Homo sapiens: one gene and its partner. The protein of the gene in region 1 purifies or fractionates together with the protein of each later gene. This does not show direct contact. Each region holds a gene or a part of one and is shown in the gene's direction. Other genes may lie near its edges.

Region 1 (7,293 bases):
CGGATGAGAACTGGGGTTCAGTATCAAAACATCTCATGTACTCCCCAAGTATATACACCTCCTATGCACCCAGAAAAATTAAAAATTAAACGATAAAAAGAACTGGGGTTTCACAGGCAACAGGCCTCCCTGCCCACTGACAGCCTTGCGCTGAAATGTCTATCATCTCCTTTACAAAGACGGTACTGCCTGCTTCCCCAAGCCAAGCGTCTGCTTTTCTGTTTTGCTGAACTCAGGTTGCTTAGCGACCACGCACTCTAAAGCCATTCACAAGATCGACATCCCTTCCTTTGACTGGCCCATCGCACCGTTCCCACGGCTGAAATACCCTCTGGAAGAGTTTGTGAAAGAGAACCAACAGGAGGAGGCCCGCTGTCTGGAAGAGGTAATGCTCATACCCTGCGGATCCTCCCCAACCACCAGTCCTGTTGCTCTTGCCGCCCCAAGACTTGGGGAGAAGAGAAACAGATGAAGGGTTTATCTGGGGATCTGTGCAGTGCTCCCCCAGAGGGAAGCAGGGACACAGAGGCCTTGCGTCCCAAATGTTCTATGTTGGGAGAGTTCGTGAGACACACTGTTTCTGTCACAGCATCCATCACCCAACTCTGATACCAATTTCTGTATCACTTAAGTTTCTTGGAAGACAAGAGTCAATGACTCTAAAATAAGAGAAAACAGATCAGTTGAAAGAATATGGGGCTGGGCACGGTGGCTCCGCCTGTAATCCCAGCACTTTGGGAGGCTGAGACGGGAGGATCACCTGAGGCCAGGAGTTCGAGACCAGCCTGGCCAACATGGTGAAACCCCATCTCTACTAAAAATTAGCTGGGTGTGGTGGCACATGCCTGTAATCCCAGCTACTAGGGAGGCTGAGGCACAAGAATCCCTTGGACCCGGGAGGCAGAGGTTGCAATGAGCCAAGATTGCACCACTGCACTCCAGCCTGGGTAACGGAGTGAGACTCTGTCCAAAAAAAAAAAAAAAAAAAAAAGAGAGAGAGAGAAAGAAAGAATATGGGATATCCCACAGGAAAAAATGGTTCCACAAGATCCTCTAAACCACTGGTTTTGTCTTCTCCTGAGTCTTGGGGCTTTGAGTTGCTGTGGGTCGGGGGATGCTATGGGAGAGGCTGAGGACAGGCAGCACCCCCCTACCCCCCGTTTCCACGTCATCTAACACAGCCCTCTTTAGATCCACTCAGTATATGGGGGTTCCAGGGAAGACATTGGAAGTAATCTGCAGCTGGAAAAAAATATCACTGTTTGGGTATAGATTTGAACTCAAATAAGGCTGCTGGTTTTTTTCTTAGGCACATCATCATTTTCAATCAGTTCATATTTATTGAGCACCTACTAGATGTCAAGCAAGGTGCTAGGTGCTGGGTATTCAGTGGTAAATAGAAAAGACAAGATAATGGCATCAAGTACAGCACTGTCCAATAGAAATATAATGCAAGCCACATATGTAATTATAGCTTTTCCAGTAGTCACCTTTTCTTTCATTTTTACACCCTGCCTGGAAACTGCCAAGGAGTCACATTTGCTTTGTTTTGTTTTGCTTTGTTTTTGAGATGGAGTCTAGCTCTGTTGCCCAGGCTGGAGTGCAGTGGCGCGATCTCAGCTCACTGCAAGCTCCGCCTCCTGGGTTCATGCCATTTTCCTGCCTCAGCTTCCTGAGTAGCTGGGACTACAGGCGCTTGACACCACACCCGGCTAATTTTTTGTATTTTTAATAGAGACAGGGTTTCACCGTGTTAGCCAGGATGGTCTCGATCTCCTGACCTTGTGATCCGCCCGCCTCGGCCTCCCAAAGTGCTGGGATTACAGGTGTGAGCCACCGCGCCGGCCTTCTTTTCTTTTGTTTTGTTTGAGACAGGGTCTCACTCTGTCACCCAGGCTGGAGTGCAGTGGTGCAATCACAGCTCACTGCAGTCTCGACCTCTCTGGGCTCAGGTGATCCTCCCACCTCAGCTTCTTGAGTAGTTGGAACTAAGGCACATGACACCACCACACCTGGCTAATTTTTGTATTTTTTGCAGAAACAGGTTTTGCCGTGTTGCCCAGGTTGGTCTCAAACTCCTGGGCCCAAGTGGTCTGCCCACTTCGGCTTCCCAAATTGCTGGGATTACAGGTGTGAGCCACCGTGCGTGGCCAGGAGTCACGTTTTTTAAAATTACAAAGAAATAGGTGAAATTCATTTTCAGAGCATTTTATTGAACCGAATATATTCAAAATATTATCACGTAAATGTGTAATTAGTATTTTTAAACAATGTGATTTTTATATTCCTTTTTAAAAATTCCTTTATTTTAAAAATTCATTTATTTAGGTCTAAACAAACTAAGATAGTCCTTTTCTTCGTATTCAGTTTTTGAAACACTGTGTGTATTTTACACTTACAGCACAATGCTCTAAAAACAAAGAAAAACCGGGCGCGGTGGCTCATGCCTGTAACTGCGACACTTTGGGAGGTTGAGGCGGGCAGATCACCTGAGGTCAGGAGTTCAAGAGCAGCCTGACTAACATGGAGAAACCCCATCTCTACTAAAAATACAAAATTAGCCGGGCATGGTGGTGCATGCCTGTAATCCCAGCTACTCCAGAGGCCGAAGCAGGAGAATCACTTGAACCCGGGAGGTGGTGGTTGCGGTGAGCTGAGATTGCGCTATTGCACTCCAGCCTGGGCAACAAGAGTAAAACTCCATCTCAAAAAAAAAAAAAAGAAAACCAAGAAAAGTATCTCAGAGCTTCCTTGGGGTGACTGGTGGAGACCAAGGTCAAAATCATATCACCCAAACAGAGGCTTTTTCTTAATTGTACATAATAAAGAAAGCTTTCACTTGTTAGTCTATCTAGGTGTACGGTTTAGGGTTTTTCTTTCTTTTTTTTTTTTTTTTGAGACAGAGTTTCACTCTCTTGCCCAGGCTGGGGTGCAGTGGCACGATATCTCGGCTCATTGCAACTTCTACCTCCTGGGTTCAAGCGATTCTCGTGCCTCAGCCACTGGAGTAGCTGGGAGTACAGGCGTGAGCCACCATGCCCAACTAATTTTTGTATTTTTAGTAGAGATGGGGTTTCACCATGGTAGCCAGGCTGGTCTGGAACTCCTGACCTCAGGTGATCTGCTCGCCTTAGCCTCCCAAAGTGCTAGGATTACAGGTGTGAGCCACCATGCCCAGCCTCTTTCTTTTTAACAAAGACAGGATCTTGCTGTGTTGCACAGGCTGGAGTGCAGTGGTGTGGTCATAGCTCACTGCGATCTCACAGTCCTGGTTCAAGGGGTCCTCCCACCTCAGCCTCTCAAGTAGCTGAGACTACAGGCACGCAGCCACCATGCCCAGCTAATTTCTAAATGTTTTGCAGACATGAACCGCGCTATGTTGCACAGGCTGGTCTCAAACTCCTGGCCTCAAGGTATCCTCCTGCCTCAGCCACCCAAAGTGCTGGGATTGCAGGTGTGAGCCACCACACCTGGCCCTTAGAACAGTTTTTTAACCGAGGATATATCTCCGATTCTGCCCCAAAAGGATTCTCACACCAATCATAGCAATAATACTGTAAGAATAGGAACAATAATAATCAATAATAATATAGTCGTGCTAATCGTAATAGTAGCAGCCACCACTTTATGTGTGCCAGACTCTGCTGTATTTTCTCTCTGTCTCTGTGTGTGTGTGTGTGTGTGTGTGTGTGTGTGTGTGTGTGTGTGTGTGTGTGAATGCTCTCACCTTTATTTCTCTCAATATACCCGTGATGTAGCTATTTCCCACATAACAAGGTTAAGTGACAGGTGCATGTTCCATGTAAAACAGAGGCAGAACCACAGCTAAAACATCTGGCCCAGCAATCAACTCATAGTGCTATATTTTCTCATTCAGTCCTCTCCACGACCCTGGAAGGTGGATTCTGTCAGTGTGCCCATACAACACATCAGGAAAGTGAGGCTTCTGAAGCTAAATTACTTGCCCCAATTTATTAGTTTGTATCCACCCAGGTGCTAGCACCGATTTCAAGTAGGATACATTCCCATCCACACACATAGCTTCTAACAGAGGCTTCACTGGTCTTAGGAAATGCACACAAACACATTTCCAATAAAATTGCATGGGGCTCATCGAACCCCAGATTCCCACCCACGGATACTGGTCACAAGCCTCTGCCATCGGTGGTCACTTTCCCCTTTGGGATCCAGGTGGAGGATCTGATTGTGAAATATCGGAAAAAGAAGAAGACGGTGGCCGGGATCATCGTGGAGCCCATCCAGTCCGAGGGTGGAGACAACCACGCATCCGATGACTTCTTTCGGAAGCTGAGAGACATCGCCAGGAAGGTCAGTGGACAGGGCCGAGGTTGGATGGAGCCATTGGGTTTTCTGGGTTGAGTTCCCCGAGTAACGGGCCAGCAGCACCTCTGCCTTGGAGCTTCTGTCAATCTCCAGACTTGCAGAGGCTGTCTGTCAGCATCAGGGGTGGAGAAGTTGGGGTTGGTGAAAGAATGGGGATTCTTCCCTAAAACTATACACACACACACACACACACACACACACACACACACACACACATATATATATATTTTTTTTTTTGAGACAGAGTCTCACTCTGTTACCCAGGCTGGAGTGCAGTGGTGCAATCTCAGCTCACTGCAACCCCTACCTCCCAGGTTCAAGTGATTCTCCTACCTCAGCCTCCCGAGTAGCTGGGACTACAGGCACACGTCACCATACCCAACTAATTTTTGTATTTCTAACAGAGACGAGATTTCGCCATGTTGGCCAGGCTGGTCTTGAACTCCTGACCTCAGGTGATCTGCACACCTCAGCCTCCCAAAGTGCTGGGATTACAGGCCTGAGCCACCACACTTGGCCTTAAAATCTTTTTAAAAAACCTTTTTGGATACATAATAGTTGCAGTGCGTAATGATCAAATCTGGGTAATTGGATATCCATCACCTAAAATATTTATCATCTCTTTGTATTGGGAATATTCCAAATCCACTCCTATTTTGAACTATGCAATAAATTATTAACTAAAATCACCCTATTGTGCTACTGGACACTAGATCTTATTCTTCTATCTAACTGTACTTTTGTATCCATTAACCAACCCCTATTTATCTCCACCTCCCCATTAGCCTTGCCAGCCTCTGATAGGCGTCATTCGACTCTATTTCTTCATAAGGGAAGTGTTTTTAGTTCCCACCTGAGTGAGAACATGCAATATTTGTGTATGTGTGGCTTATGTCACTTAACATAATGTCCTGTAGTTCCATCCACGTCATTGCTAATGACATAATTTCATTCTTTTTATGGCTGAATAGTATTTCTTTGTGTATATGTACCATATTTTCTTTTTCTTTTTTTTTGAGACAGTCTCACTCTGTTGCCCAGGCTGGAGTGCAGTGGCACGATCTTGGCTCACTGTAACCTCTGCCTCCTGGGTCCAAGTGATTCTCCTGCCTCAGTCTCCCAAGTAGCTGAGATTACAGGTGCACGACACCATGCCCAGCTAATTTTTGTATTTTCAGTAGAGACGGGGTTTCGCCATGTTGGCCAGGCTGATTGGCTCAGACTCCTGGCCTTGGGTGATTTGCCCGCCTCAGCCTCCCAAAGTGCTGGAATTACAGGTGAGAGCCACCGCGCCTTGCCGAGTGTGTATATGTACCATATTTACTTTATCCATTCATCCATCGATGGACAGATTGATTCTGTATCTCGGCTATTGTGAACAGTGCTGCAATAAACATGGGAGTGCAGGTATCTCTTTGACACACTGATTTGCTTTCTTTATATTGTGTGTTTGTTTTAATGTCTTGTGCATATATAACTGGCAATCAAACCGATAAGTTCACAGATAAAAGTTATAAGACGTGAGTTGACTTAACACAGATGCTGAGTTAGAAATAGCCTTGGTGACAAGCAGAACATGGCAGCTGAAGTTTGAGAAGCACATTCGAGGCCTCACTGTTGGACACAGCTCCCTCTGACGAGGTCGAGACCCGAGACTGAAGCCAGATGACATACCGCTCTGTGTTGGTGCAGGGAGTATTTAATGTTCTGGGTTTTTTTGGTCCAGCTTAGCAGTTTTAGGAAACACTCAGATTCAGCTCTGGTTGGAACTGCTCAGCTTAAGTGTTTTGATTAGTTTTTTTTGTGCACAGCTCAAGAACATGGGGCTGGTTTGCTCTTCAGAAAACAAGCACGATGTGTGTGGACCCAGGGTTTGGCAGTTAGCTGGCTATGGAGGGCATGAATTTCTGGCCTCCCACGGGTGTTTATTTCTCCCTCCTCTCTCTTCTCCGGCCAGCATGGCTGCGCCTTCTTGGTGGACGAGGTCCAGACCGGAGGAGGCTGCACGGGCAAGTTCTGGGCCCATGAGCACTGGGGCCTGGATGACCCAGCAGACGTGATGACCTTCAGCAAGAAGATGATGACTGGGGGCTTCTTCCACAAGGAGGAGTTCAGGCCTAATGCTGTGAGTTGGAGCCAACCTTCTCTCTACATCCAGGGCAGAGAAGGGAGCATCCTCTTCTCCTAACTGTTCCTTTCTCACCATCGAGGAGCTGGGTGGGCACTTACTGGGTCGCAGGTTTTCTAAGTCCCAGTTCTTATCAATGCAATTAGCAGTGGTGTGCCCTCCCAGCTCTCTCTGTAAGGCCAACTCTGGAACAGTCCACCATCAGCCTTTTCCTGTTTTCTCTCTGTGTGCACACACAATAATATCATCGACAGCTGCCGCAGCAGACTGAGCATTTGCTATGTGCCTAGTTCTAAGTATTTCTCATATACTTTTAATCCTGAGAACAATCTAACCAAGTAGCTGTTATTTTTATCCTCATTTGACTAATGAGGAATCAGGCACAGAGAGGTTAAGTAATTTGTCAAAGGTCACACAGCCTGTTAAGTGACAAAGCCAGGATTCCAACCCAGAGCCCATACTCTTACCCACTACACTGTGTACTGCCATGTGTGCATACAGATTTACACACACACACACACACAGCCATCAGGGGCCAACGTCCTTTCACCATTCCTACATGTAGTTTCTACCCTCAAGGTTGCCTCATGGTCCAAAATGGCTTCTGATGCTCCAGCCATCACATCTCAATTCTAGGCAGTAGGAAAGAAAAAGAAGGGAAGGACAAAGTGGCCCCCTTCTTGTCTTTAGCAGCCTTTCTAGAAATCTCACATAATATGTCTATTTCCAATACTTGACTAAGACCCAGTCACATGGCCACTTCTAGCCATAAGGGAGGCTGGGAAGGGTGTTTCAGTTAGCCGCATGGCCACCCTAAATCA
Region 2 (7,293 bases), on another chromosome or scaffold:
CTGGAAAATTTGAGGGCATTAGGGAAAAAAATGGACATTTAATCACAACTAAATGCCAGGTAGAGAAAGATATTTTACATTAATTTGAAGTAAACCACCTTAAAACCTTAAAAATCGTGTAAGGGAGGTTCTAGATTATTCCCATTTTGCAAATAGGGAAACAGAATTTGAGAACTGGAATAATCTGCGCAAGCACCTAGAGTTGGCAAGTGGTATTCTGGGATTCCATTCTGGGGGTTAGACTCATATGCTAAAATCTCTACTTTGATTTCTCCAAAGGTGCTTACCTTGACAGGAAAGAAAAGAACACTTACATTATAATGTCAAACTGACTTCATATTTCAGATTTCAAAAGCATCAGAAAATTGAAAGGTCTACATATATATATATACATATATATATATTTTCTATAGATTAGAATGATTGTGAATTTTTTTACATTTCTGATTTTTCATTCACTTGTCTGGCTGTGTCTATACATTTTTGTTTTTCAGAATTCCTTAACTTTGGAGGCAGTGAAACGACTAATAGCAGAAGGTAATAAAGAAGAACTACGAAAATGTTTTGGGGCCCGAATGGAGTTTGGGACAGCTGGCCTCCGAGCTGCTATGGGACCTGGAATTTCTCGTATGAATGACTTGACCATCATCCAGACTACACAGGTACCATGTTTTTTATAATTCTTAGTAACTCAATGTATCCCCTAGCTCATTTTCTATTTGGCAGACCTAATTTATTCTAATTATAGACATGTCTTACCAGCTTGGCTAGACACAGGAAGTCACCACCATTTACTCCATAAAGTAAGGCTTGCACAATAGGTCGAAGTAGCACTTATTCAGGACTCATATAGCCATCCATCCATTCATTCATTCATTTAACACACTTATTGAGTACATACCATGTGCCAGCACTGGGGATATAAGAATGACTCGAACAAACAGATTCTCTCATGGAGCTTTCATTCCAGTATAAATGCACCAACTAAGCTGACAACTTTTAAGGTCCTGTAATTTTTGCCATGATTACATAGCAAGTGCTAAAAAGCTTTTCTAACTGCCGGAGTTACCAAGAGCCTGTTCTCCTTTGTTTTATAGTATGGATTGAGTCTGTCTTAATTTGTGAATATTTTTGTCAGAATCTAGACCCAGCTTTTAGGAAGGAGATAATTTGACAAAACAGAAGTGCTTCTACTGGGTATTGGCAGTACTGTTTATGAGGGAAATGAAATAGAACAGATTATTCACATCAGTATTTCTTCACCTTAGACCTGTTGATGATGAATGTCACTTTAATTGTGGGAAAAGAAAGGCTAGAAAAAATTGCCTAATAGTGATTACATGTGCCTCACGTATACATCCCAGTGTAAAAGGCAGAGCTGGGCATGTTGTAACAAAACTCCAACAAGGAAAGCTTATCTAAGGGTATAGAATTACCACAGGGGCCAGGCGCGATGGCTCACACCTGTAATCCCAGCACTTTGGGAGGCTGAGCCAGGCAGATCACTTGAGCCTAGGAGTTCATGACCAGCCTGAGCAACATGGTGAAACCCTGTCTCTACCAAAAATACAAAAATTAGCCAGGCGTGGTGGTGTGCACCTGTAATTCCAGCTTCTTGGGAGGCTGAGACAGAAGGATTGTTTGAACCCGGAAGGCAAGGTCGTAGTGAGCCGACATTGTGCCACTGGACTCCAGCCTGGGCAACAGAGCAAGACTCTGTCTCAAAAAAAAAAAAAAAAAAAAAGAATTGCCATGGGAACTCCTGGTCACAAATTGTTATTAAGCAATAGGGCTCCCTGAGATGCTGGAGGAAAGACTTAGAATGGGGTAAGTATGGGAATCCTGTTTGGTTCATGGATAACATAGGAACTGTGCTGCTGAATAAGGTTGCCTTCTGTACCAGTTACTAGGGCTATGTAACAAATCATTGAAAACATAATGGTTTAAAACAACAACCACATTTATTTTGCTCACAAATCTGCAATTTTGGTAGAACTCAGTGGGGACAGCTTGTCTCTGCTCCACTCAGCACCATCTGGGCCAGTTTGGAGGTTGGAATCATTTGAAGGCACCTTCATTCACACGTCTGAAATTATTACTGGCTATTGGCTGGGATCTTAGCTGGGGTTGGAACCCCTTCATGTGGCCTGGACTTCCTTATAACATGGTGGTTGGCTTTCAGTGAAGTATCCAGAGAGGGAGAGAGAGAGAATGTGCCAATTGGAAGCTGTGCTGACTTTTATGACGTAGCTTTGAAAGTCACACAGTGTCACTTCTACCGTATTCGGTTTGTTAAAAGTGAGTCAATAAGGCTGTCTCATATTCAAGGAGAGGGCACATAGATACCCACTTCTCATTAAAGGAGCATTGATGTCACATTGTAAGAGGAACATGTGAGATGGCTTATATTACTGGGGCCATCTTTGGACAATCCAGTTGGTTACACCTGCCATTGGGCCTAATTGTTAGGGGTTTCTAAGGGATTCTAGATTAACCTAGAGCTTTTTCCCCTGTATTTTTCTATATCTAGTTTCTGAGAATAATGAAATGTATTCCCATTAAGGACTATCTTACCCATTTTTATCCTAGAATTCATCTCCTCTGGGGGTAAACCCTGTGGTAAACATAGATGATCAATATTCTAAAGGTCATGTAATTCAACCAGACACCCCTTGGGATAATTTTCTCCATGACCCCACCACTCTGAAGTGCTCATTCAGCCTATTCTTGGATACTTGTAATAGGAGACAGAGATGTGAAGAGTTAAGAAAGTTTTATCTGAGCAGCAAGTATATCTTTAAAATCTTAGGAGTGGATTCAAAATTAGAGGCAAGAGGATTCCCAGAACAAACAACCCAGGTTTCTACCCAGTCTTGGGTAGTGTTCCCTGGCAGAATGCTGATATGCAAATATATTTGTCACTTTTCACTGATCAGACTTTCATGGTGGCATAGGTGCCCTTCCTGCTGGTCTCTGGGTGTGGAGCCTCATTCTGAGGTACCCCAAAGTTTGCCTGGTTCATTTAAGAAGCAGATGTATGTGATTCAAAAATATGTCAAAGGAAACAGGACAGAGACTGGAGGAAACTTTTGTATTGTTTGCCTCATTGATAGAGGTTATAATTTCCTCCTGCCAATTAATTTATGCTTTATTTATGTTCTATTTTGGGTTCTGTGTTCATAGATTATTTAATTTAGCCATAGCATACCAGTGATGGGAAACTCACTGTCCTCTGAAAGAGGCCATTCTATCTTTGGACCATTCTCATTAAAAGATGGTTTCATTATTTTAAGCCAAAATCTGCCTTTCTGTAGACTTTACATATTGGTCTTAGTTCTACTTTTTGAAGGTCATACACATAAACTTGCTTCTTATGTTTTATAATAACATTTTATTTCTGAAAACCTCCCTCTTCCCCCACTGAGTCTTTCATCTAGAATAAGAATTCCCTTTTCCCTTGGCCATTCTTTCAGGTCCTCATCCTCAGCAGGCCTCCGAGATTTTTAGAGAATCTGGAGATGTGAATGCTTTTTTGCCCCATGGAGCATTGGGGCCACAGCTCAAGGGTTGAGCAGGAAGAGGGGTACTGTCACTGTTGTAAGTCTTGAAGTATCAGGCATCTGGGTACCTTCTGGGGAACCCACAAAACCAATACACATGGCCTTATTTCCTTGTATCACTCAGCCTCAGAAGATAATCCCAGTGCAATGTATTTGTCAAGGAAAAGCTAAAGGCATTCTAAATTAGCTTGGCTCTCGCAACAAGACTGTGATGTATCCCCTCCTACCCAAAATAAAAATTATGGCTTGGACATGGTGGCTCATGCCTGTAATCCGAGCACTTTAGGAGGCCAAGGCAGGAGGATTGCTTGAGCCCACAAGATTGAAACCAGCCTGGGCAATATGGCAAGATCCCATCTCTACAAAAATTGTTTTTTAAAAATTAGCCAGACATGGTAGCATGTGCCTGTAGTCCCAGCACCTCAGGAGGCTGAGGTGAGAGGATTACTTGAGCCTGAGAGATTGAGGCTGCAGTGAACCATGATCGTGTCACTGCACTCCAGCATGGGAGAGAGTGAGACCCCATCTCAAAAGAAAAAGAGTTATGTATATTTTAATAAGACTTCCTTTAGCAAAAGTGAAATAAATAATATAAAATGAATCATTATTTTTGCCCAATCAACCAGAGTTCTCTTTGTTTTATATGGCTTTGAAGGAAAATAACAACAAAAATAATGCGTAAAACAGCAAACACTTAATATAGTACTTAGTTGGTGTTGAATTCTCAGCACTTTGCATGTTTTCATTCATTTACTCCTTATGAGGTAGGTATTATTGTTATTCCTGTTTTACAGAAGAGGAAACTAAGGCACCAAGAAATTAAGGAACTTGTCATTTGCTTGTAGGTGGCAGCGTGGAGTACAAATTCTCAGATTGTGCTTCTAGAGTATGTGCTTTTAAGCCCTACACTGAACTACCTCTCACCAGCCCTGGATACAAATCCAGGCTCTGCTACTCGAATATCTGAAACTGTCACTGTGCCTCTCTGAGGCTTATTTTACCCATCTATAAAATGGGTTTTCTGGTCAGGTGCAGTGGCCCACACCTGTAATCCCAGCATTTTGGGAGGTCAAGACAGGAGGATTATTTGACAGTAGTTCAAGACCAACCTGGGCAACATTGCAAGACCCTGTCTCTACAAAAAATTTTTAAAAATTAGTTGGGCCTGGTAGCATGCACCTGTGGTCCTAGCTTCTCAGGAGGCTGAGGTAGGGGGGGATTGCTTAAACCCAGGAATTCAAGGTTGCAGTGAACTATGATTGTGCCATTGCAACTCCAGCCTAGGCAACAGAGCAAGACCCTGTCTCTGGAAAAAAAAAAAAATTTCCTAACAAAGTTGATCTGAGGTTAGAGATAACAGCTACTAAGTGATCAATGACTAACACAGTGCCCAATACAAAAACATAGATAATAAACAAAGCTGTTATTTTATTATTGTTCAGTTTGCTTCCTTACTGAGATGAATTTTTCCCTCTCTCCCATAGTGTTCTATGAAATTTGAGAAAACTTAATTTTTGGCTAATTTTTCTATATGGTATATATAAAAATATGTTAAAACATACTTTTTAAATCTATGGTGTATTTGTAGGGATTTTGCAGATACCTGGAAAAACAATTCAGTGACTTAAAGCAGAAAGGCATCGTGATCAGTTTTGACGCCCGAGCTCATCCATCCAGTGGGGGTAGCAGCAGAAGGTATTTAAACATTTTTACAAAATGATGTTTTTATAATTTATTTTGCAGTTTTATTTTAATCACCATCTCAATAACTTGACTTTAATATATTCATTAGCCTCATTGCTTAACTGTAAAAACAATGGGTAAATTCTCTTGGCAACTTTTAAAGATTCTGGTTTTACATTAGGTTAAGGAAATAAAATTATTTAGACAATTTAGAATGTAATACCTAGCTAAAAGAAAGAAATTTCTTAAACTGGCAATATTATTTTTCCCTCTCATTTGCCTTTTTATACATAATTTTTACCCTGCTATTCATAAACCTCATGACCCCCTTCCCTCTCTTGAACGCCCACGTCAAGCTGCATTTCTGAAACATTCTCAAACCAATGGGACTCTCTTATGTAGCTGAAGGCATATGATGCTGATGGTGACAATGATAATAGTAATAGCAGCAATCATTTGAGTGCTGATTATGAACCAGACACTTATGTATTTACTCATTCTATCCTCACAGCAACGTGTAAGGTATGTACTTTTATCTCTTTACCCTGAGATTATAATGTGAAAGGAGGAGTCGCAATTTAAGCCTAAGGACACTAGTACCAGGGGTCAGCAAACTTTTTCTCTAAAGGGCAAATAGTGGATATCATACACATTGCATATCACATGATTCCCATCACCACTACTCACCTCTCCCATGAAGCAGAGAAACATCCATCGACAATGCATAAACACAGGAGCATGGCAGTGTTCCAGTAAAACTTTACTTACAAAATGGGCTGTAGTTACCAACCCCTGCCCGTAACCATGTTACATAACCCTCTTTTTTACTTGAACACTTCCTCTGTTATGATGAATTTTTAATCATTCTAGAGTATCAGTATTAGTAGTAGCTTAGAATTACACATATTGAATATTAATGAAAAGTCTTATTAGCTTTACAGAGCTGGATGAGTTTATAGAGTCCTATCTTTGCCCATCAGGAGCTTCCAATCTAAGACAGAAGCACTCGTGGGGACAAACGTGTGGCCGTGAGGAAGGGTGCATAGCCGGGGAAAATCACCCGGTGGCATCAGCCCCAGGTTCAACTCAGGAGGGCATAAGATTTTTAGTCTTTAGCTTTGCAGCTCAAAAATGTGCTTTTTGTCAATAAAGCAAGAGAAAAGTTATAGCTCTGGGGGATAGATGCACATGAACTACATTCACAAGAGAATGATGTGGTATAAACCAGCATATCAGCTTGTCATTTACAGTTAGTGGATGTACAATCAGAACTAAATCGTGACCGTGTTCCTCTGCCGCCCCAGGGCAAGTCAGATCCTTTGCTCAGAGCATGCAAAGTGCACGTATGTGGCTAAGTCTGTCTGCTGAGCTGCGTAAATTTCTTCATTTTGGGCTGACTGCCCTGCTTCTGGTTGATACAACCTTCAGAGATATGTTAACATTATCAATTAAGGTACAGATTTTTTTGCCCTGGCCTTGGAGCCGTATCATTTCCTTAAAGTGAGTGATGTTACTGATTTAAGCTTATGGTTCAAGTCTCAGAGTTTGATGGGATGGGATGGAGTGGAACTCAAGGCTACTCTCTATCACCTGTAACGCGTGAGACATTTAGAGATCATAATGTAAGTGTTTAACCAACACATGGTAAAATATTCATGATGAGTGAATGGAATCTTCGTAAGGAGTTGGAAACTATTGCAGTTTCTGAATTTCGCCCGAGGAGATGTTTATCCTTTAATCTTCCAATTTTAAATATCTGGTGGGGAACGTAAGCAGTAACTGTTAAGTATATGCAGAGAACGCATTGCATTTTTTTGTGCACATTTGTAACAGAGAGAGAGAGTGGCGATCTGCTCTTTGTGCCCCAGCCAGCCTTCAGAATAGTGTCGGCGAAGCTAGTGCCCAAGAAGTATTTGGGGAGAGTAAGAATGATCTGATTGTTTAACTCACAGGGGTGGTATAATGTTGTTCATTCTAAGTAAATCGCTCATTTATTTGTGGTAACGTATTTTACACCAGCTTGAAGGAAGATTTGATGCCATTTTCTGCG

What was found.
Region 2: the proteins of ABAT (region 1) and PGM2 fractionate together in Homo sapiens (co-fractionation; 2 studies listed by BioGRID). This does not show direct contact.

The regions. Positions count from the first base shown.
Region 1 is NC_000016.10:8,768,589-8,775,881, forward strand, and holds part of ABAT (4-aminobutyrate aminotransferase, mitochondrial isoform 1 precursor), read left to right. Parts: intron 1-236; coding exon 237-385; intron 386-4,191; coding exon 4,192-4,329; intron 4,330-6,301; coding exon 6,302-6,469; intron 6,470-7,293. UniProt on the Homo sapiens protein: Catalyzes the conversion of gamma-aminobutyrate and L-beta-aminoisobutyrate to succinate semialdehyde and methylmalonate semialdehyde, respectively. Can also convert delta-aminovalerate and beta-alanine.
Region 2 is NC_000004.12:37,829,470-37,836,762, forward strand, and holds part of PGM2 (phosphopentomutase), read left to right. Parts: intron 1-494; coding exon 495-662; intron 663-5,148; coding exon 5,149-5,255; intron 5,256-7,293. UniProt on the Homo sapiens protein: Catalyzes the conversion of the nucleoside breakdown products ribose-1-phosphate and deoxyribose-1-phosphate to the corresponding 5-phosphopentoses.